Regions from separate parts of the Homo sapiens genome. Here region 2 is linked to region 1. The links come from fine-mapping of genetic effects on gene expression. A gene starts in region 1. The other region holds a variant in brackets. All regions are shown on one strand. Distances are from middle to middle.

Region 1 (11,619 bases):
GGCTTATCAAGGAAATTGAAGCAGCAAAAAATGTTAGTTATTGAGACCAATGCTCTTCCTTTCACGTTGGCTGCCACCATGCAAGCGACTGAGTGTATGAAAGCATTGCAAATATTTGGAGGCAGGATAGGATGGCAGTTAGCAACAGAGCTTGAAGTTGGAAATTCCAGGCTTGAATCCTGATTCTTCCACCTACCAGCTCTTACAAGTTACTAACATCTGGTGAGTGTTTAATGAAATGATGCATTTGAATTGCCAAAAACAGTACCAGACAGGTAGTATATGCTCCATAAACATAGTATTCTTATTTATTGAGACAAAACTTTTTAAAGGATATATGTCCCAAAGAACAAAGAGAAATCTTAGCATGGATCAACATTCCTCTGTCAGGGAAACTCTTCTTGAGAAAGGGCACACCAGGAAGCAAGAGGGGGAAAGGAGATAGGTACCTAAGTGGCCAAGTCAACCCCTGTGACCAATGACTAGCAGCTTTTAAAATCAATGTGTGCCTTCACATGAAAGATGAGGGGGCATGAGGGTACACAGAGAGGGCCCTGTGCAGAAGATGCTGCACTCACACCTGCCTCTGAACCCCCTGATTCTTTCCATGCCCACCTCACATGCAGGAGGGCTAGAGCTGATCTAGGTGAGTGAACCTCCCTGACCACTTTGCCAGCACTTAGCTAGGAGGAATAGAGAAGAGATGGGACCATATACCTGGAAAGGTATCCATAAAGAGTTGGCAATGTGAATTTGCTCAGTTGATTGATGTGGCTGCCTTCCAAACTGATACCCCCTCCCTAGTTTTGGGTGGACCTAATAAGCAGATTTGCTTTTCCTGGTGCTGGTTAAACACCCAAATGCTCTTCCCACATCAACAAAGCCCTTAACTGAGTACAAAGGAAAAACTCAGTCTGAAGCTCTCCCATGAAAAGGATTTTGAGGGAGGAATGTCAGAGCCCAGAGACATCCAGGATGGAAGAATCTCAGAGGCCCGTGTTAAACATCACCTTCCTCTCTGGTGCTTACTCACATAGTCCAAATGTGAATTCAGCAAAACTAAGCTACTTGAATCCACAAACCTTGAGATAAATGGAGTTTTGAAATAGTGCTCCTTTTTGGATGGTCCCTGTCTATTGCATTTTGTCCACTTTATAATGGTCACCCTTGATCTCACACCCTTTACTGCCTCTTACTCTCCCCAGCCAGCCCCTCTTAGGTTTCTGCACACAAATGCTATTCTTCATCTATTTATCAAATCCACTGTACAGAGAGTGTCTTGATTTAATCTGCATTTTCAGCACCTAACACAGTTCCTGGTACATTGTAGTGGCTCCACAAATACTCATCAAATGGATTCGTGAAGTACCAATTATGTGTCTAGCATCTCAGTTATGAGACCCAATTGAGAAAGTGGTTTGTACTGAAGTGCCAAACCTAGCTCCCCAAATTAGTGACCTTATAAACTGACAGATAGGAAGCATAACTTGGGACCATTTGTGAAACAGAGTGAAGTTAGCTGGCTCCACTGTGAATTGAACCCATCACCTTATAGTCACTAGCACCTGGCGCTGTCAACTGAATAAATGAGGCATCCACTGCCCCTGATTCAACAAACAGCTGAGGTGACAAGACTCTCTTCCTTGCCCCAGAACCCATCCTTGTTACATAGAGTCTTCCTAATGTGAAAGCAGCTTCTCAAAGTTCAGATGGGGAAGCTGAAGCTGACCTCCCACAAGGCAAGTGCTATTCTCTGTTTCCAACAAATGCAACATGCCAACACTTCTAACAATGAGAATAAAAACTCAGAGAAAAACAACTGAAAAGAAAAGGAGGAGAAAAGCTCCTCAGCTTGCTTGAACTTACAATCATGTGCCACATAACGTTTCTGTCAACAACGGACTGCATAAACAACAGTGGTCCCATAAGATTATAATATTATATTTTTACTATTCTTTTTCTATGTTTGGAGGTGTTTAGATACACAAATGTCATTGTGTTGCAACTGCCACAGTATTCAGTACAGTAACATGTTATACAGGTTTGTAGGCTCGGTAGGCTATGCCATAAAGCCTAGGTATATAGTAGACTATACAGTGTAGGTTTGTGTAACTGCACCCTGTGATGTTCACATGACCATGAAATCACCTAACGATGCATTTCTCAGAACATATTTCCATCATTAAGCGATACATGACTGTTTCGCAGAAGGGTTGGACCTCCCATATGGTCTCAGAGCTACAAAATACAATTTAGGATTTCTATGCAAAACAGGTGAGCCTAACACCAGAATTTCACTGTGGAGTCCAGAGGGAAGTTGCCCTTGGCTCTGGAAACTCTTTTTCTCCCTCCACGTTGCAGGGAATTTTTGGCTTTCCAAGATGACAAATCCCCTTTTGCACTGATTTGGCCTTCGGTCTGTGCTGCGACAGATACACAGGGCCACCCCTAGGTGGGGTTCATAGCCCATGGCAAACCACATTGTTGTTCTCTGCACCTAGAAAGCCTTCATACCTCTCTCTGCTGCACAGACTCTGATTCATTCAAGGCTCACTCTCTCCATGAGACCTTCCCTGATTTCTAAAGCACTCATCAGATTCCTTCTTTTCTGACTCCCTGTAATATGTAAGTATGGTTCCTCTTTATCATACCATTTGAAACTTAATCTCTTTTCATCTCACATAATATACTAATATTAATATTTAATATGATAACTTACTTGACCCAGGGAGGCCTGAATGTACCTGGAGGTAACTACTCATAAATTAGAATTGGAAGGACCCTAGCCAATCAGATGATGGTGCTTGAAATTTTATCATTAGAATTATAGAAAGAGAATCAAAAATGATTGGACATTACTCACTCAGTCCAACCTCTTGCCTAGCACAAGAATCCTTCCACAGTAGCTTGGCCGATGTTCATTTGGCCTTTGCAGCAATTTTTCCAATTACAGGAATTTCATTTTCTTTGCAATAATTCATTCCCATATAGGACCTCATTAAGCTTCTATATGAAGTTTTTATATAGAAAATAATTCTTCAAGTTTGAAGAATTATTAAAGGTAATACCCTTCAGCAGAGATAACATGTTAAACACGCATGTATTATCTGTCACTTAGACCTAATTCTGCATGTTGCCTAATACATTTTTTAAAACCTAAGACATTTAATAGATAACTAATTTATAGATAACTAAGAAAAAGTGGAGCACTCTGATAGGAGAATGAACAAAAAGTCTGATAAGACAACTTATAAAAAAAATGATATACAGGAACAGAAAACCAGATACCACATGTTCTCGCAAAAGGAAGCTAAATGATGAGAACACATGACACATAGAGGGGAACAACACACACTGGGGCCTACCGGAAGGTGGAGAGTGGCAGGAGGGAGAGGATCAGGAAAAATAACTAATGGGTACTAGGCTTAATACCTGTGTGATGAAATAACCTATGCAAAAAAAAACCCATGACACAAGTTTACCTATATAACAAACCTGCACATGTACTCCTGAACTTAAAAGTTAAAAAAAAAAAAAAAGAATGGCCTGGGTCAGGATAGGCATGAGGTTACAGTAGAAAAGAAACAATAAAAAAGGTAACTTTGTATTAAATATTGAAGTATGAATTAAATTTCAGAGTTTTTGCAGCCTTTGAAGAAAAAACAGGTGATATATGTGCCCAATAAATATAGGAAAAAATGCGTCTAATCTAACAAGTAATCAAATAAACGTTGTCACCTGTCAACTTGGACAACCACTTTGAAAAATAAAAAATAGCCAGTATAGGGAGACCTGTGAAATAGGGTCTCCCATTCACTACTGGTGAGAGTATAAGTTGTTGCAGTCTTCTGGAAATGATTTGCATGTGTGTCATGCCTCTCCATACACTTTTAACTAGTCATCTTGCTTTTTGAAGTGTATCCTAAGAAAATAACCAAAGAAGCAGACAAAGATTTATATATAGGGATGCTCATCCAAGTAGCATTTACCACAGCAAAAAGTTGAAAACAACTTAGATGTACCCCAAAAAATGGGAAGGAAGAAAATATATCATGGCACATCCACATGTCAGAATGCAACAAACACAGAACACCATGTTTTGGAAATTATTTTATGTCTTGGGAAATAGCAAATATGCAATTTTAAGTGAAAATGCAAGATTATAAAATTATACGTGTATTAGAATCCTACTTTTATTTAAAAATATAAATATGAATAATTCAAAGTGAAAACACCTATCCAGCAATAACCACTATCCAGCCACCTATCCGGTGATAACCACTGCATATGGATATTGGGATTATGGATTGTTTTATAGTTTCTTCTTCAAATTTTTCTGCATAGTTCTAACTTTCTACAGTAACTTCTATTATTTTTATAATTAAAAAACTATTTATATGATTTGGAATGCTTTACAGTGAACTAGTTAAGAAGAAACTCTTCAAACTCCCAGGTAGCTAAGGCAGTGTTTAGCAGATAACTATGCGGAGAGCCATGTCCAGCACCTGGGGTATTTCCTAAGCAAAGAGCTGGTGGCAGCTAGAGAGAGTTTGGGAAAAAGCTATATCTTTTCATCTTTGTATCCTCAACACCCAATATCGTACCTCATCTGGACCAGAAACATAATTTACAAGGCCTGGTGCAAAATAAAAATTCAGAACTTCTTGTTTGAGAAATATTACAAATTTCAAGATGTTAACAGTGCATTGAACCAAGCACAGGGCCCTCCTAAGTGTAGGGCCCTGTGTGACTACAGAGATCCCACACCCATGAAGTGGGCCATACATTGTAGGTGCTCAATAAATACTTGTTGAAAGGAAAGAAAGAATGAGTAGATAGAATAAATACAAACAGACTTCTCAACTGTGCCCAATGGCAAAACTAGACTCAGCAAGATTTGAAATTATGGGAGTGTTCTGTACTCCTAGAGGTTAAATTTTTAAAAGAAGAAGAAGAAATTATGGGAGAGTATGAGGTCATAGGCATAAGAAATCACTGTTCCAGAATTTTCCCAGAGAGTTTATATTCAAACTACACTGTCCTGTTGTCCTCAAAAATGTATCTGTTAGATCATAGTCCACAGTTTCTATTTTTGATCTGGACAACATGATCAGTGCATCTATAGAAGAAATAAATATTATCACTTCTGTCTGTTCCAATAAGATATTTGGCTCAATTATATCCTCCCTCACTGCTTTTGCCTCAACCTACTTTTCCTCTCATAACCCTAAGCTTAGCAATAGAACTCTCCTTACCCATCCTTTCCTTCCTGCACCCCACACACACTCATCCTCAGCACTCCCTCTGCCTTTAATGCCAGCCAAGCAGACACTGAACATGAGAAGGTGTCTGCAGAGGATGTGAATAACCCTCATCCTAATCCCCTCCATGGTCTCCCTGCACAGGCCTGGATGAGGCCCAGGAGAACTGGAGTTGCCAGCTCACAGAAGCAGTTGCAGCCTAAAAGAAGACCAGGCAGCCAAAGGTTGTCACTTATCAAAGAAAAATGAGACAATTTGTTACAAGTTATTAGACTGGAGAAACTGAGCCATTAAGTGGGAGCCTGACCCTTGGATGGGAACAATGATGCTAAAGGGAGATGCTCATCCCCGCTTACAGGGCTGCGTCCCAGCCCTCTGATGCCAAAAGAATACAAGAAGTCTAACACCCCCCTGCACAAGCCAAGTTAGCAAACGTCCAGCATCTTGTTCAGTCAGCAGACATGCTATGGTAATAGTAGTGACACCCCCAATACATACCAAGTGTTTTGCTCCTTAATCACTGTCACAGACAATTGATACTGCCATTGATACTCGTGGGCTTGGGGAGGTCCCCAAACACCCGTAGGACCTCAATCCTGGCTGGCGTCCAGGCTCTTGACACTGTTGTGAGAAGGAATTTAAGGATGAGTTGGAAAATACTGAAAGTGCAGAGATGTATCACAAAGCAAAAAGTACACACCCGAGAAAAGGGAGTGTGTGCCTACTCAAGAGAGAGAGTCATGCCCAGTGGGGTTCAGGGTTTCCATCTTTATGAGTTTCTTTAACTAAGAGGTGGAATATTCATGAAGATTCCTGGGAAAAGGTGAACATTTCCTGGAACTGTGGTACCACCCATTTTTACACCAATTTGGGTGTTCCCGGACTATCACGGCACTGGTGGGTGTGTGATTTAGTAAGTTAATGAACATATAATGAGGTTATAGGTGAAACCCATGTCAAATCCAGCACCATTTTGGGTCCAGTTGGTCTTAGCCAGCTTAGCCTACATCTGGTTTTCAGGATCTTATCAGCCCCTAGTTTATGCAGCTATTTCAACAATTTCCTTTTGCTAGTCATGTGAAACTGCTAACTGCTCCATTCTCCAGCTACCACCCAGTATTACCACTTGGTCCTTACAAGAACATGTGATGTAAGATAGGACAAGTATTCAATCTCAGTTTATAATTTAGGAAACTGAAACATCAAGAGGTTAAGTGAGGCCAGGCACAGTGGCTCATGCCTATAATTCCAGCACTTTGGAAGGTTGAGACAGGAGAATCACTTGAGTTCAAGACCAACCTGGGCCACATAAGGAGGGCCCATCTCTACAAAAAATTTAAAAATTAACCAGGTGTAGTGGTGCATGCTTGTGGTCCCAACTACTAAGAAGGGCTGAAGTGGGAAGATTGCTTGAGCCTCAGAGATCAAGCCTGCAGAGATTTGATCATACCACTGCACTCCAGCCTGGAAGACAGAGCAAAACCCTGTATCAAAAAAAAAAAGAAAGAAAGAAATAGAGGGAGATAGAGAAAGGAAAGGAAAGGAAGGGAAAGGAAATGAAAGGAAAGGAAAGGAAAATAAAGGGGGAAAAAAAGCTGAAGTTACTTACCCATGGTCAGAATTTTAGCTAATCACAGGCCCGGGACAAAAACCCAGGTTTCCTGAGTTTAGTTTAATGGCTCTTTCTACATTGCTATGGTTGAGGCTAGGTGTAAGTATTTCTCAATTACAGCCAGACTAATGGAGGTAGGGAGGTATACAGGAAGGATGAGGGTGGATGAAACAGACTCTAGGAGGAATTTCTGGGCATTTTTACATTAATAAATAAGACATAAATAATTTGTCATTTATATTGCAGCTTAGTGGCTACCCTGTTTTTAATTAATCACATAAAAGCAGGAAGCCTGACCAAAAGTGGAACAAACAATTTCTATTTTGGTTTGGAATGAGATTATTTTTGCTTTATTTGAATATATGATTCTGATGTCCTGGGGACACTTTTTAAACCAGATAGTGAAGCCAGCCTTGAATAGCTGACTCAATTCAATCCAACAAGTGTTATTGAGCACGTTCTCCCAGCCTTAGACTTGTGGCTGACCTTGATTGTCTCCCTCAGGCAGATGCTTCTTTCAAGCCCCTATTTTGCAAGCAAAGGTCCCATTATAGCAGTTATCAGATTAGAATATTTTTGTCTGTGTGGCTGCTTTACCACTGTATTGTGAGCCTTGGAAGGCAGGACCCATACCCTAGTCATCTTTATAACTCAAAAGTCTAGGAGATGAGCTGAGAGATGACTGGTGTTGGTAAATCTGTCTGATAGATAAGCTAATGAATGCACAAACTGGCTAACCTGAAAAGATCATTGACCTCTCCAAAGTTTCAGGTCTCTTATTTATGAAATAGATATGGGTACACCTATTCTGCCTGAGCCATGGGTTTGTTAAAAGATTAAATGTTTATATGTTTATTTTCTGGCCTTCACACACACAGACCTCAAGCAAACTTAAATGTCAAAAACCTGAAGACAGGAGCCTTGTTCCTCTTGTTCATGGTTGTGTCCTCAATATCTATACTGGTACCTTAGTAAGTGCTCAATTAATATTTGTAGAAGGGAGGAAGGTGGGACAGAAAGGTATAGGAGAATATTTTATAAACACTAATGTCTCCAAAAAGTTAGAATTCCCCCAACCAAAATGCAATACATTGTGATCATCAGAAAGCACCTTGTGCTGCTTAAAGACTCTGTCCTGTTATCAGTTCTGCCCCATCAGTGGATCAGTCCCTTCTGTCATCTGTGGATAAGGAGCATTGCACTCACACTTCTCCTTCTCAGACGAGGCCAACTGTGTCTTTTTCAAATTTTCTGTGGTAAAGGATAAAGGGGGAAGCCATAGAGTCATATCAACAATGCCAGTAACCAAGAAAAATGGCTGCCAAAACTTACCTAGGACTCACCTAGGATTCATAATGCCATTTGTGGAGTCACTAACCCAGGCTCTGAGGGACACGGTGGTCCAGACAGAGCCTGTGTCAGAGCTGAGAGCTCCTGTGGCCTGGCCCCTGCAGCCACTTTGGAGGTGGAGTGGGGAACACTGGTGCCTCTGGAGCCCAACTGAGCTGAATAACCATCTCAGCACAGGCACTTCCTGGGGATTAATGAGGCACAGAAAAGAATAACACCTCAAACCATTAACCCCAGCCAGCCATAAATCCTCAGGAATTGCATGGCAGAGTGGCTGTTCCTGCTATATTAAGGTGAAAATGCATTTTTAAAAAGCCTATGGATTTTCTTTAATGGACAGCAATACCATTGGTACCCAATGGGCCTTTCCACAGACAGAATACCTCAGCCCAGTGGCCTGGCTCTTTATCCAATTTGCAATGTTTCCTTGCCTCTGCCTACTGTCTTTTCCTGTGCCCTTTGCTTTTAGAATAGATTGAAAAACACCATGTTAACTGAAAAAGCACTGGAATAAGACAGCGATAAGTCCAACCAGCTTGCAGCAGCCATGACCTGAGAGCAGATGCCGCTCTAAACATGGCTCAATGGGCAGCCAGATGGGGAGAAAAATCAAGAGTAAAGCCTGCCAAGGTGTAGGAATCCCCAACTGACCTTTTTGACATTGAAATCCCCAATGAAAATGCAAATGTTATCAGACAGGGGGAAGCCCCTGAGCCACTTGTAGGCTATCAACAGGTTTGCTACAAATTGTCTAATACAGTCAATCACCTGGCAGAGCCCTGGGCAATGGAACTCAACACAGGTATTAACAGGGGAAGTAGAGAATGTCAGAAATGATGGGCTAGAAAGGTAAAACAAACAAAAAAAAAGTGGGGGAACATGGGAGACATAAAGAGGGTTGGGGGAGGCACCAGGTCATTAGCCAGTGGATATTGATATGGACAGGAGGCAGGGAAACACGGGGTAGAAAAGGGTAGGATTCTTGGTGAGGGCTCCACCCTCAAGCCTGGACCCACAGCCCTAAATGAGAACATGCATTCCTATTTTCCCTCCCAAATGTTGCTTTTTCCAAAACACCCTAACCTGCCACACCCCCCCCCATCCTCTACCCATAAAAACCCCAAGCTCCACTGGCAGAGGAGCAGAGCAGTGTGGCAGAGGAGAGAAGAGAAACGGTGTCTGAACATCAAGAGGAAAAGAGGCAGCTGAACATTGGAGAGGAATTTGGGCGGGGATGATCAGAGAGGAGTTTGGCTGGCGACAGCTGAATTCCAGGGGAAAATTATCTTCCCATTCCATCCCCTTTCCAGCTCCCCATCCTGCTGAGAGCCACTTCTACCATGCAATAAAATCTCTGCATTCACCATCCTTCAAGTCTGTGTGATCTCATTGCTCTTGGGCACCAGACAAGGATCTGGATGCAGGTGCAAGAGGCTGTCACACTGACTCTCCACTGAGCTGTTTAACACTTAGCCATCCATGGACAGCAAAAGCTAAAAGATCACTGATTATAACACATGCCCCTTTGGGGCTCCAGAGGTCACAGACAACCCCTAGATGCTGCCATGGGATGGTACAGGGTTCATTCCTGTTGGCACTAGCCCTTGCTCCTGAACTCACTCACCTGTGTGCTCCCCCTCCTGCAAGGGGTTTGAGCTTGATGGCTGAGTAAATGAGCCACCTTTGTCACAAGTCCCACAAGGGGGTCAAGGGAACTTTCCCATCTCAATACAAAGGGTGGTGGATGGAAAGTAAATATCAGATCACCAATAACTATCAGATTAATAATTTTTAAGCATAGGTAGGGGATGGCTAAAGACAAACAGAAGCCAAAAGAGAAGACAAAAGAGAGAGAGAAAAAAAATAACATCAGAGTTTAGCAAGAAGAACAGAAGAATTCCTTTTGGCTGTCACAGAATATTGAAGTTCTTGGAGGTTCCACCAACCAGGGTAAAATAAATATCTACTCCATAACTCAATTTGTCTATTAAAACAATCTCTTTCCTTCCTTTGAGGATAAAACTTCCTTCAGAAAATCACTCTGGGAGATGAAGAGTTAATATTTAAAAATTTCCAGGCAACTTTGGAGAGCAAGGTTCTATTCTAAGTGTGAGGGATTCATATTATAAGAAATCCTGTAGATTGACAAAACTAAATGGCCTCTACATCGTATAACCATAATCCTCTTCAGTGTACCAAAGTCCAAAAATAAAGACCAGATGTCTTCAAATTGCTGACGTTTATTGAGCTGGTTTCACTCACTCACAGCTAAACCAAGCTTTCCCTGGACACAAAGCTAAGGATTTCCGTCATTGTATTATTGGTTTTTTTGCCACAGTATTCCTGTTCATGTATACGGGAACCCTTTTGGCCTCCTTGGGTCTGGAATGGAGTTTTCTACTCCTTAGAGGATGTGTCTGTGGAAGCTCAGTTGAAACCTGTTAAGTGCCTGTGCCTTTCTGACAGCCTCTTCTGGCTGGGAAGAGCCCATTTCTCACTAGCAGCTGGTCAGAATAGTGAGGCCTCCACCAGTGACTTGTCCATGGCTTTGTGTAGGCTAGCTGCCATGGGATGGTACATGGGGGGTAGCTCCCCCACCTCCTGCCAACGCACTCACTCCCTTTTTCTCATAAGTTTCCAAACAGTATTATTAGTGCTAAAATGTTTCCTGGTTTTTATTCTTATATGTGTTTGCCCTATTAGATCACAAGCTTCTCAGCCATGAGAACTGTTTTATAATTCCATGTCATTCTCTCCGTCAACTCGCATAGATCATATATTGATGTCTGTACATCATGAGATATTAGTGAAGAGTATGTTGACTGACTAATTCTTAAAAGGGAGAAAAAAAAGAAAAAGTGAATTGTGACAATGGATTGCAGACCAAAGACAAATAGGTGTGTGCTTACAGATATGTGTGTACATGTTCATCTGTATATTCACTCATTCCATAAATACGTATTGAGCACCTACTATGCTCCAGGTACTAGGCATGGGGATACAGAACAGAACAAGAAAAATAAAGCCCTTTCCTCCCTGAAAACCTCCTTAGGATCTTCTTTCAATACAATTTGCCAGATCCTTGAGTGTCATGTTATTTGTGTGTTTGTAGGGTTTATACCATGGCTGAAAAGGGACAGTGTGTTTGGATATGTGTCATATAAAGAAAAAACACATGTGTCCTCTAAAAATATCCTTGGTTTGGGTTCAGAGTACAAAAAAATAGAAAAGAGTATAAGATACTGATATGAACAGGAGACAGGGAAATATTGGGTAGAAGAAGGTGCTTCCCTGGCAAAAGGCCCACCCTCAAGTCTGGAAACCCGTGGTCCTAAATGGAAACAGGAATCTCTGTTTTCACACCCAAATGTTACCTTTTGGCCCACCACACCCCCC
Region 2 (11,619 bases), 42 kb before region 1:
TATGGCTATGTTTGAATTAACTATCTTAATAGTTGTTTTCAATTTGCCCCATTAATTCTTTTTTTGTTCCTTTTTTCTGCCTTCTTTGGATTAAATTAAATGTTTTTATAATTGGGTTTTATCTCTGGCTTATTAGCTCTCCCTCTGTTTTTTCATTTTTGGGGTATGTGTGTGTGTGTGTGTGTGTGTGTGTGTGTGTGTGTGTATGTGTTGCTTTAAATTTTAAAATATACATTTTAGCTTATCTCAGTCTACCTTCAGTGCTATTATATTACTTACAGTGATATTCTTCCATTTTCTCCTTCCCATTCTTTGTACTATTATATATTTTTATCTGTATGTATTATAAACTATAAAACGACTGCCGTTTTTGCTTCAGTTATCTTTTGAAAAAAATCTTAAGTAAAATTTTTTATTTATTCATATATTTACAATTTGTAGGGTTCTTTATGTCTGTATGTAGCTCTAATTTCTTCCTCAAGAATGTCTTATAACATTTCTTGTAGTTCAGATCTCATAAATACAAGTTCTTTCAACTTTTCTTTGAAAAGCCATTATTTAAACTCCACTTTTAAAAGAAATGTTCATTTGATATGGCATTCTAGTTTAACAGAAGGTTTTTGTTAATTTAATTTTCTTGTTCTGTTCTGTTTGCTTTAGTTTCAGTACTTTAAAGATGGTGTTACATTGTCTTCTGGTTTAAATAGGCTCAGGTGAGAAAACGATGATAATTCTTATCTTTGTTGCTCTGTTCATAACATGTTCCCCACCCCTATCTGCTTTTTAAAATTTTCTTTATACTATCAGTTTTTACAAATTTTGTTATGATGTGTCTTAGTATATTTGTCTTTGTGTTTAGCCTGCTTGAAATGCCTTGTACTTCTCAAATATGTGAGCTTATAGTTTTCATCAAATTTGAAAAATTTCAGCCATATTTCTTTTTCTTATTTTTTGTTTTTGGGGTTTATTTGTCGTTGTTTTTGAGACAGGTTCTCACTCTGTCACCCAGGCTGGAGTGCAGTGGCATGATCACAACTCATGGCAGTCTCAACCTCCCTGGCTCAGGCGATCTTCCTGCCTCAGCCTCCCAAGTAGCTGGGACTACAGGCACACGTCACCATGCCCAGCTAATGTGTTTTTTTTGTTGTTTTTTTTTGTTTGTTTGTTTTGTTTTTTGTAGAAACGGGGTTTTGCCATATTGCCCAGGCTGTTCTCAAATTTCCAGGCTCAAGCAATCTGCCAGCCTCGGTCTCCCAAAGTGCTGGGATTATAGGTGTGATTCACCATGCCCAGCAAAGTCATATTCCTGCATATATTTTTCTGTCCCCCTCCATTCTTCTGAAACTCTAATTAAATATACATTACATATTCTCTAATTTCATCCTCACATGTTGGGGGAGCGACCTCGTGGGAAATGATTGAATCATGGGGGTGGATTTCTCCCTTGCTGTTCTCATGATAGTGAGTGAGTTCTTATGAGATCATTTTGTTTAAAAGTGTAACACTGTCCCCCTTCACCCTCTCCCTCCTGCTGCCATGGAATATGTGCCTTGCTTCGCCATCATCTTCTGCCATGATCATAAGTGTCCTGAGGCTTCCTCAGCCATGTGGAGCTGTGAATCAATTAGACCTTTTTTTTAAAAAATAAATTACTCAGTCTCAGGTAGTTCTTTATAGCAGTGTGAAAACGGACTAATACAATGGCTTTTGGAAAAATTTCAAGCAGTCTGACATATATATATGTTAGATGATATGGTGTGGCTCTGTGTTCCCACCCAAGTCTCATATCAAATTGTCATCCTCACATGTTGGGGGAGTGACCTCGTGGGAAATGATTGAATCATGGGGGTGGATTTCTCCCTTGCTGTTCTCATGATAGTGAGCCACTTCTCATCTGACCTCTGATTAAATAGTGCATCACATATTCTCTACTTATATATTAGATATAATAAACTCTAATTATACATATTATATTTCATCTAACATATATATATGTCAGACTGCTTGAAATTTTTCCAAAAGCCATTGTATTAGTCCGTTTTCACACTGCTATAAAGAACTACCTGAGACTGAGTAATTTATTTTTAAAAAAAAGGTCTAATTGATTCACAGTTCCACATGGCTGAGGAAGCCTCAGGACACTTATGATCATGGCAGAAGATGATGGGGAAGCAAGGCACATATTCCATGGCAGCAGGAGGGAGAGGGTGAAGGGGGACAGTGTTACACTTTTAAACAAAATGATCTCATAAGAACTCACTCACTATCATGAGAACAGCAAGGGAGAAATCCACCCCCATGATTCAATCATTTCCCACGAGGTCACTCCCCCAACATGTGAGGATGACAATTTGATATGAGACTTGGGTGGGAACACAGAGCCACACCATATCATTGTCATTGAGACTCTATTCATTATTTTTTTTTTTACTTTTTTTCCTATATATACTTCATTTTGGATAGTTTTCATTTATGTTTTCAAGTTCCCCATTTTTTCTTCTACATTGTCTAATTGGCTATTAATTCCATGCAGTGATTTTTCATTCAAGATATTTTATTTTTCAGAATTAGAATTTATGATTTATGTTTTTCTCTATATGTCATTTTTATCCTCAGTGTTCATATTTTTCTTTAAATAATTATGCATATTTACAATAGCTGTTTTTAAATTGTTGTTTGCTAATTCTTTCACCTCTGTCATTTTGAGTATGTTTCTACCGACTGATTTATTTTACTGGATATGGAATCATATTTTCCTGTTTTCACATGATTAGTAATTTTACGGAATGCCACATTTGGTTAATTTTATGTTTTGAATGATGGATTTCGTAGTCTTTCTTTAAAGAGTGCTACACTTTGTTCTGGTAAACAATTACATTACTGGAAGATCAGCTTGATCTTTTTGAAGATTGTTTTTAAGCTTTATAAAGTCTGTTGAGTAGCCTTTACTATAAGGATAGTTTAGCCCCACTATGAAGGCATGACTTCTCTGAGGTCTTGACCAAATGCCCCAAGGTTTTTAGGGGTTTTTAGTTTGTTTTTCTTCCGATTTTTACTTTTTTATTCTGGTAGCTTTTCTGCTTTTTATATAATTTTTTTTAAATTTCAACTTTTACTTTAGATATGTTGGTACATGTGCAGGTTTGTTACATGGGTATATTGCACTCAGGTTGTGAGCATAGTACCCAACAGGTACTTTTTCATCCCATGCCTCCCTCCCTCCCCTCCCTCCTCTAGTAGTCCACAATGTCTACTGTATCCCTGCTTATGTTCATTGGGCTCAATGTTTAGCTTCCACTTATAAGTGAGAACCTATGGTATTTAGCTTTCTATTCCTGCATTAATTTGTTTAGGATTATGGTCTCCAGCTCCATCCATGTTGCTGCAAAAGACACGATTTCATTCTTTCTTATGGCTGTGTAGTATTCCATGATGTATATGTACTAGATTTTCTTCCATTCCATCATTGATGGGCATTAAGCTTGATTCCATGTCTTTGCTATTGTGAATAACACAGTGATGAACATACAAGTGCAGGTGTCTTTTTGGTATAATGATCTATTTTCCTTTAGGTATATACCCAGTAATGAGATTGTTGGGTCAAATGGTAGTTCTGTTTTATGTTCTTTAAGAAATCTCCAAACTGCTTTCCACAGTGGCTGAATTAATTTACATTCCCACCAAGGTGTAGAAGAGTTCCCTTTTGTCCACAGCCCTACTAGCATCTGTTACTTTTTTACTTTTTAGTAACAGTCATTCTGACTGCTGTGAGATGGTATCTCATTGTTGTTTTGATTTGTATTTCTCTAATGATTAGTGACATGAAGCATTTTTTATGTATTTGTTGACCACTTGTATGTCTTCTTTGGAGCAGTGTCTGTTCATGTCTTTTGCCCTTTTTTTAATGGGGTTATTTATTTTTGCTTGTTGATTTGTTTAAATTCCCTATAGATTCTGGATATTAAACCTTTGTTGGATGCATAGTTTGCAAATACTTTCTCTCGTTCTGTAGGTTGTCTGTTTATTCTATTGATAGTTTCTTTTGCTGTGCAGAAGCTCTTTAGTTTAATTAGGTCTCACTTGTCAATTTTTGGTTGCAATTGCCTTTAGGGACTTAGCCAAAAATTTCTCGCCAAGACCAATGTCAAGAGGGGCATTTTGTAGCTTTTCTTCTAGGATTTTTATAGTTTGAGGTCTTACAAAGCCAAACTATCTTTCTTCACTGATGATACGATTCTCTATTTAGAAAACCCTAAAGACTACACAAAAAGGCTGCTAGCCCTGATGAATGATTTTAGCAAGATTTCAGGATACAAAATCAATGCACATAAATTAGTAGCATTTCTATACACCAATAGTGATTAGGCTGAGAGTCAAATCAAGCACACAATCCCATTTACATAGCCACAAAGAAAATAAAATACCTAGGAATATGGCTAACAAAGGAAATGAAAGATCTCTACAAGGAAAACTACAAAACACTGCTGAAAGAAATCAGAGATGACACAAATAAATAGAAAAATATTCCAAGCTCCTGGATTGGAAGAAACAATATCATTAAAATGGCCATACTGCCCATAGCAATTTACGGATTTAGTGCTATTTTTGTCAAACTAGCAATGTCATTCTTCACATAATTAGAAAAAAACTATTCTAAAATTCATATGGAAGAAAAAAAAAAGCCTGAATAGCCAAAGCAATACTAAGCAAAAAGAACAGAGCCAGAAGCATCACACTAGCTGACTTCAAACTATTCTATAAGGCAATAATAACCAAAACAGCATGGTATTGGTACAAAAACAGACACACAGACCAATGGAACAGAACAGAAAATTCAGAAATGAAGCTGTACACTTATAACCATCTGACTGATTTTTGACAAGGCTGACAAAAACAAGCAATGGAGAAGGGACTCCTTATTCAATAAATGGTGCTGGGATAACTGGCTAGCCACACACAGAAGAATGAAATTGGGTGCTTATCTTTCACTATATACACAAATTAATCCAAGATGCCCCAAGTTCTTAACAAGAATTCTCCAGTCTAACTGCTTAAAATCTGAGTATCTTCCAGCCTTTTGTGAGCTCTGGGAACCCTTCAGTTTATCATTTTTTTACTGGTCTTGTAAGATTTATTCCTTTGCATGCATGTTCAAGTATTCAACAACAGACTCAAGAGAATCCCTGTGATATTTTTGAACCTCATTTCCTGTGCAACTCCCTCCTCTCCAATACTCTATCTTGATAACTGAAGTCACCTTGGTGTTTTGTTTTTGTTTTTTTGGTTTTTTTTGAGACAGAGTCTCACTCTGTCCCTGTAAAAAGGCTATTCAGGCTTTTTGTTGTTGTTGTTGCTGTTCCATATGAATTTTAGAATAGTTTTTTCTAATTGTGTAACCTCCAATCTAATTTTTTCTAATTGTGTGAACTCCAGTCTCTATCTCTGCAACTCAGCAATTCTGCCCTACTTGGCTTGAGAATCCTTCTTTGAACCAGAAGTGGAAAGTGTCTCCAGGCAAAAGTTGGTCAATCTATGGCTCACTTCACGTGTTTCTCTACTTTCAAGAATCACAGTCCTGTGCTGCCTGTTTTCCAAACTCCAAAAAACAGTTGTCTCATGTACTTTGTTCAGTTGTTTTAGTCGTTTATAATGGGAGGGGAAATCTGGACCCAATAACCCCATGATTACCAGAAGAAGACATTGACCCCAAATGTGCTTTTGTTTGCTTTTAAAGCACAAATGCATTGATTACTTTGATCTGAGGACAAAATAGCCTTGGAAGGGTTGAAAGAATTGATTAAATAGAATGAAAATGCTACAGATGTCAATGAGTATTGGGTTATGTTATTTATTAACGGGTTTTTTGTCATTTTATTTAATGAACTTGGGAGGAAGGAATTAGGAAAGACAAGGCCACTAGAAAGCCATTTCACAACAGGAAAAACTGTTTTATTAAGGATTTTCACACTGTTTTACTGTTCCTTAGGTAACTCCCTGTATTAGGTAGGATGGGCTAGATCATTCTGTGGTTATAAGTAACCTTCCAATAGCAGTTACTTAAGATAACTACGTTTTATTCTCACTTATGCTGCCCACCCATTATGGGTAGATTATAGCTCTGTTCCGTATTATCTTCATTTCATCATCCATCTGAAGGAGTAGTACCCATCTGAGACATAAACAGTTCTATGGTAGAGGAAAAGAGATATGGAAAACCATGAGATGGCCCTTGCAACTTTTGCCTTGAAAGTGACACAT[T/G]GCATTGGTCTAAGCAGGTCACATGGCTATCCATTGCTTTAATAAGCCAAGAATATAAAGTCTTTCCAAAGAGAGGGGAAATGTAAGAAAACAGTATTTTGTGAATATTAACAGCAACTGATCTTCTGTCTTGGATTAGCTCCTACAGAAAAAACTAGACAGCATCAGGGAACGCAGCTAAGCATTTGAATGTGGACTCCATCCTGAACACAGTCTGTGCTTAAATGACTACCACAGCCATTAGCAAGACGAAAAAGTGATCTATATCTACTGATATGTGGATACCATGAAAATATAGTTAAGTGAACAAAAGGAAGATAACATAATAGTGTATATAACATACTTTCATTTGTGTAAAGAACAGAATATATTTATATATCTGCATGTATAGCATAGAAATATTCTAAAAGAATGCACAGAAAATTGATGCCTCTGAAATAATATGCAGGAAAATGTTTCTCTGAAACAGAATATAGGAGTCTAAATTCAGAGAAATATTCATATTATACACTCTTTTGTACTGTTTAAATTTTTTCAAGGCTATTTATTTTTTTCCTGATGACTTTTCAAAAATTGCTGCTTAGTGTACACAGAAGAGTTTGATATTGGCCAGTCAATTCCCCCAGCAGTGTCACAGTATGTCATAGAGGGTAAAGATATGGAACCATACCACAGAATGACCATAACCAAGATGAACTTAAGGAAGTTCTTCATAGTTTCCAGAGATTAACCTAATGAAAAAATGTACATGAAATAAAACTTTCAAGTGACTTCCTTATGTCCTGACATTGATGCTGAGTTTTTTCATCCCACTTCTGTAGAGATGTTTATTTCATGATACACTTGTAGAAGAAATAAAACAGAGCTTAATGCTTATTTGTACTACTTGTTTCCTGCTATGTTCTTCTCCCACAAAAATTGCCACTGATGAACTATTCCTAATCTGAGGAGGCATTCTGCAACATCTGCCTTCTGAGCATGGAACTTGACTTTCCAGAATGGCAAGAGCCAATCCTCTGCCTAATCCTTACAAAGAACAGACACTGCTTTCTCCAGAATTCACTTCACAATATTGGAGCTATGGCACAAGAACAAGGTCAATGTCACACTGGAATAATGAACATATTAACTAAGAAGTTCTGAGTTTTATAGTGAGAATCAGGAAATTTCACACCTACCTCTATGGCTATGTTTTAAATTTTTTTATGATTCTAATTAACCATCTCTTAAAATTTTTCTGTGTTAATGTGGGAGAAAGAAGAATGGCCACCCAAAGATGTCTACTTCCTAATCACTGGAATCTGTAAATATGTTGTGTTACATGGCAAATTATGGAAAGAAATTATGTTACATGAGAATTAAGATTGTAAATGGGATTAAGATTACTGATCAGCTGATCTTAAAATAGGGAAGCTATCCTGTATTATCCAGGTGAGTTCACTGTAATCAAAGGGTTCTCTAAAGTGGAAGTGAGTGGCAGAAGATGCCTCATCTTCATCACTGTCAGAGTGATGAAATATAAGAAAGATTCAGCCAGTCACCATGGGCTTTGATGATGGATGAGGTTCACAAGCCAAGGGATGTCAACAGTGTCTGGATGGTGGAGTAGGCAAAAAATTGATTCTCTCCTAGAGTCTCCAGAAGGAACATAGCCCTCTGACACCTTTATTTTGACCCAGTGTAAAAGTGAGACCTACCCCAAACTTCTAACCTGCAGAATTACAAGGTAATATATTTGTGTCATTTTAAACCACGAAATTTGCAGCAATTTATTTCAGCAGCAATAGTCAAGTAATACAATGTTTATTCCCCAGTGTTTAACTATACAGATTACTGGGTGCATCATACTCAGGACATGAACCGGTTTTATTAACTGGAAGAAAAACCTACGACATGGACTCTACAGGCACCTAATCATGTTGTACCCCTTTTCTTCACACAAATTAAATGTTGGAAGTCCTCTTGATAATCAAGACACACAAGTAACTTGGAAGATCCAATAATAGGTCATGTTTCAATTAGATGTGAAGTAAGTTGTTTGAAAGAAAAACAACTTAGTCTTGCCATGCACACCTTCCATAGCACTTACTTGCCTTTCATATGGAGAGATTGCACTGTTGTCCTAATATCTTGCCCCACCATCTGAAACATACCTAGTGATTGTTGTTTACTTGAAAGTTTGACCAGATGCAGTATCTAGTTGTTCAAGGGTGGAGCAAGACACAGGTAAGGATACTATTAAGAATAATACATACAAGCTTATTTGGTATAACCCAACAAAATAAATCTTTTTCTAAGAAAAGCTGATTAAAAATTGATCATATCAATTGCATTAGCCATTCCCAATGAAGAAAGTTTTAGATAGAATAAGTACATCAGAAATGCTGAGAATACAAGTAACTCAATCCCTATCTTCACAGCTATGTTATAGCTACTTGTACTACACCAAATGACAAACATAGACTTCACTAATATCATTTAAGTTTAAAGATATATGGGCAAAAACCTTGTTTGGGGCATCACCACCTCATTCCAATGCTTTCAAACAAATTGTTTGTTAGATTCTGAAAGGGTGGTGCAGACAGCTATCAAGTCTTGAATCAGATGTCTGGAGGATAGTAAATGACAAAACTTGCAAGATTTGTTCATTGCTTAGTAGGTCATTCCTACATTAAATGAGAAGTGTCAATCCTGCTTATTTCTTAAGAGCTATTCCAGGCTTAATAAAAAACTTACATCAGAAGTTATTCTTTGTGTTAGTCTATGTTCATTGTTTTTTCACTCATGTATTCCATAAGAGATTGTCTTTTCTTAGCAACTATGCCACTGAACCAGGGTGCATTAATTTTATAAATGATATCAGTGTCACTATTGCAAAAGGTTCAGAGGAAGGCTCAAACTGTGGCATCACCACGGTGACTCGCTGTGATGGAAGCACCCCAGGGGCAATGGACCACAGGAAAACCATTAGAAAGCTCTCCTCTGAGACATGTTGTTGTTTTTTACTCAGCCACTTAAGGAATGGTCAAGGCCACAAAGTCAAGGAAGCAATCACTCTTCTCTGACTATTACAAAGAATAAAATGGAGTCTCTGGGCTCTTCTACAACCATTTGCACTGACATAACCTTGAGAAAGGCTTCCCCATTTCTTACTGGAAAATTACTTTAGCAAGAGAGAAAAGGTCTTACAAGTGCCAAGGGGGCAGTAGTACATTACTAGCTTGTTTGCTCCCATTTTAAGTTTCTGTAGATTTTTTAAATGTTTCATCAGTTTGGACAGAAGTGAGGATGTAAATTTGGGGTTTGCAAAAAAGTGGCCTGAGGGACGGAAATGGGGACAAAGAGGGACAGGACAACTTCACCTAGATCAATTTTGTAGTAATAACAGATTTTATAGCAAAGACCTGTCATTTCTTGTTTCTTTGTAATTACCATTCAAAATAATAGAGACTAATTGTTAAACGTGATAACTAAAAAATAGGGAGATATTTATCAGAAGCCACTAACTTTTAAGAGATAACAAAGCTGTTAGAAAAAGCTTTTCCATTAAGTCTGGGAATTTGCTTTCATGCTGCTACTTCTGTGCTTTTAACTTCTGGAGTCAGTCTTACCAGTGGTTTTCTATTTCTTTCATATAATTGTATAATATATATCATATTATTCTATTATAAATATTAATATATTCTATTATATATACTTATTAATATATTGTATATGCCTATATATGTTATAAAATAAAACATATTTTATGGTTAACATTTGGAAACTAGTAAGGTTGACAGTACGCAGTTAATGCTAACCTAGCAACCTTCTGGGTACTAATATACTGTAAAGGAAAACCAATTTGCTAAGGCTATTAGCAAAGTAAAGCACATATTAGTCAATATTTTAAATAAGCTGCCTCCGGATGACTTCTCAATGACATGTCAGCCATGACGTCAACAGTAACCATGGTTTAGATTTATGTTATCACATACATAGGTTAGGGGAAATTGGTATTGAATCATTATCAAAAGTTAATGCCAGTAGGAACTGGTTGTATTTGACTTATTGCACGACTGCAGAATGTACCTCTAATCTTAGCTAGAAATTTTCTGAATTCATGTTACTGTTCAAAAAGATTTGAAATAAATAGGCCTAAATTACAAGTGTTATTGCAAACAGTAAAGAGTTCATAAATAGGATGTGAACTAAGTTAACTAGTTTTATATGTATACAAATATATATAAATAAATTATATATAAATGTATAAATAAATTATATATAAATGTATATATATAAATATGTACACATATTTAGAGGTTTAACTTTTCTTTTAAAATTCAATTACAGTGAAAAAAGCTTTTAGAAATAGCATATATTAGGAAATTGAAATGTTTTTTCTTCTGGTGCCTTTCCATATCTAAAGTCACTTTTTCCTTTTGCTTAGGAACAAAATAATATACTGTGTTTAATTTAGTTTGACCTATAAACTTATTGTTTTTCTTATTTTTGAAATAAAATACATGGAACTGTAAAAGTAAATAGGAAAATGTTCCAATTTCAGAGATGTGGGAAAAGGAAGAAAATATCTAGAAAGGTATCTTATTTTTACAGGGTAAACAAAACCTCACAACTTTTTATGTACTTACATATTTCTAAATGTGAAAATTTTCACAAATGTCACCTCTCCTTTGATTTGAGTACAATTATCCATGTAAACCCACACACTCATTTATCTTAAAATCCTTATTTCTAATTAAATTGCAAAAGGGTGTAAACATTCCAAACCAAGAGCAGGCTGTTCTCATTTATTATTGAAAGAACATGATGACCTCCTAATACATACATACACACAGAGGGACACATCACGACTCAGACCCAGGAAAATGTTGCAAGCCTTTGTTCAGTTACCACAAGCTAAGAGAGGGACAGTAAGCTACTCACAACCCCAAAAGGTTGTTATCCACCCAGTAAATTAAACCATGGGTTAGCCAACTTGTCCAGAAAGTATGATAGACTGTGATTAAGACCAACCCTTAGGCAAATTCTCCTTGCAATGGTTTTTTTCTGGCCTCAGAATCCTTTTCTGTGTATAGGAGAGGGAAGCATTATGAAGGAGAGCTGGTAGATCGAGCTGTTCACCATGGTCTCCCCTCCCCAGCTGGAAGCCAGATCTGGGCTAGAAGTCAAACTCAGGAGATCATAAATACACTCCACAGAAGTAGAGATCAGAGCACACAAAACAGTCCTGCCCTTTTCTTCACTAAGATCATTTAAATATATGTCTCCAGGCCCAAAGATAAGCTAAAAACCACTTGCCCAAAATGTGTGTGATAAACCACCTGGCAGAGTTTTATAGATCTTTGGAATAAGTTTGAG

Which allele goes with the higher level. Positions count from the first base shown, and alleles are read on the strand shown. Sizes are in standard deviations (SD) of each study's normalised expression.
For the expression in tibial artery of the gene that starts at base 6,003 in region 1, allele G in region 2 goes with a lower level than allele T (large effect, 0.77 SD a copy in GTEx).

What was found.
Region 2: its variant is fine-mapped to the expression of PAPPA2 in tibial artery (GTEx, PIP 0.99).

The regions. Positions count from the first base shown.
Region 1 is chr1:176,457,559-176,469,177 of GRCh38, reverse strand. It overlaps PAPPA2 (pappalysin 2), which reads right to left and starts at 6,003. Exons shown (of 23, transcript NM_020318.3): 1 at 5,760-6,003.
Region 2 is chr1:176,499,397-176,511,015 of GRCh38, reverse strand. The region is part of intron 1 of PAPPA2 (pappalysin 2); the gene reads right to left. Among named protein-coding and RNA genes, the nearest start is that of PAPPA2, 42 kb to the right of the region's middle. The variant T/G (reference allele first, on the strand shown) is at 6,259.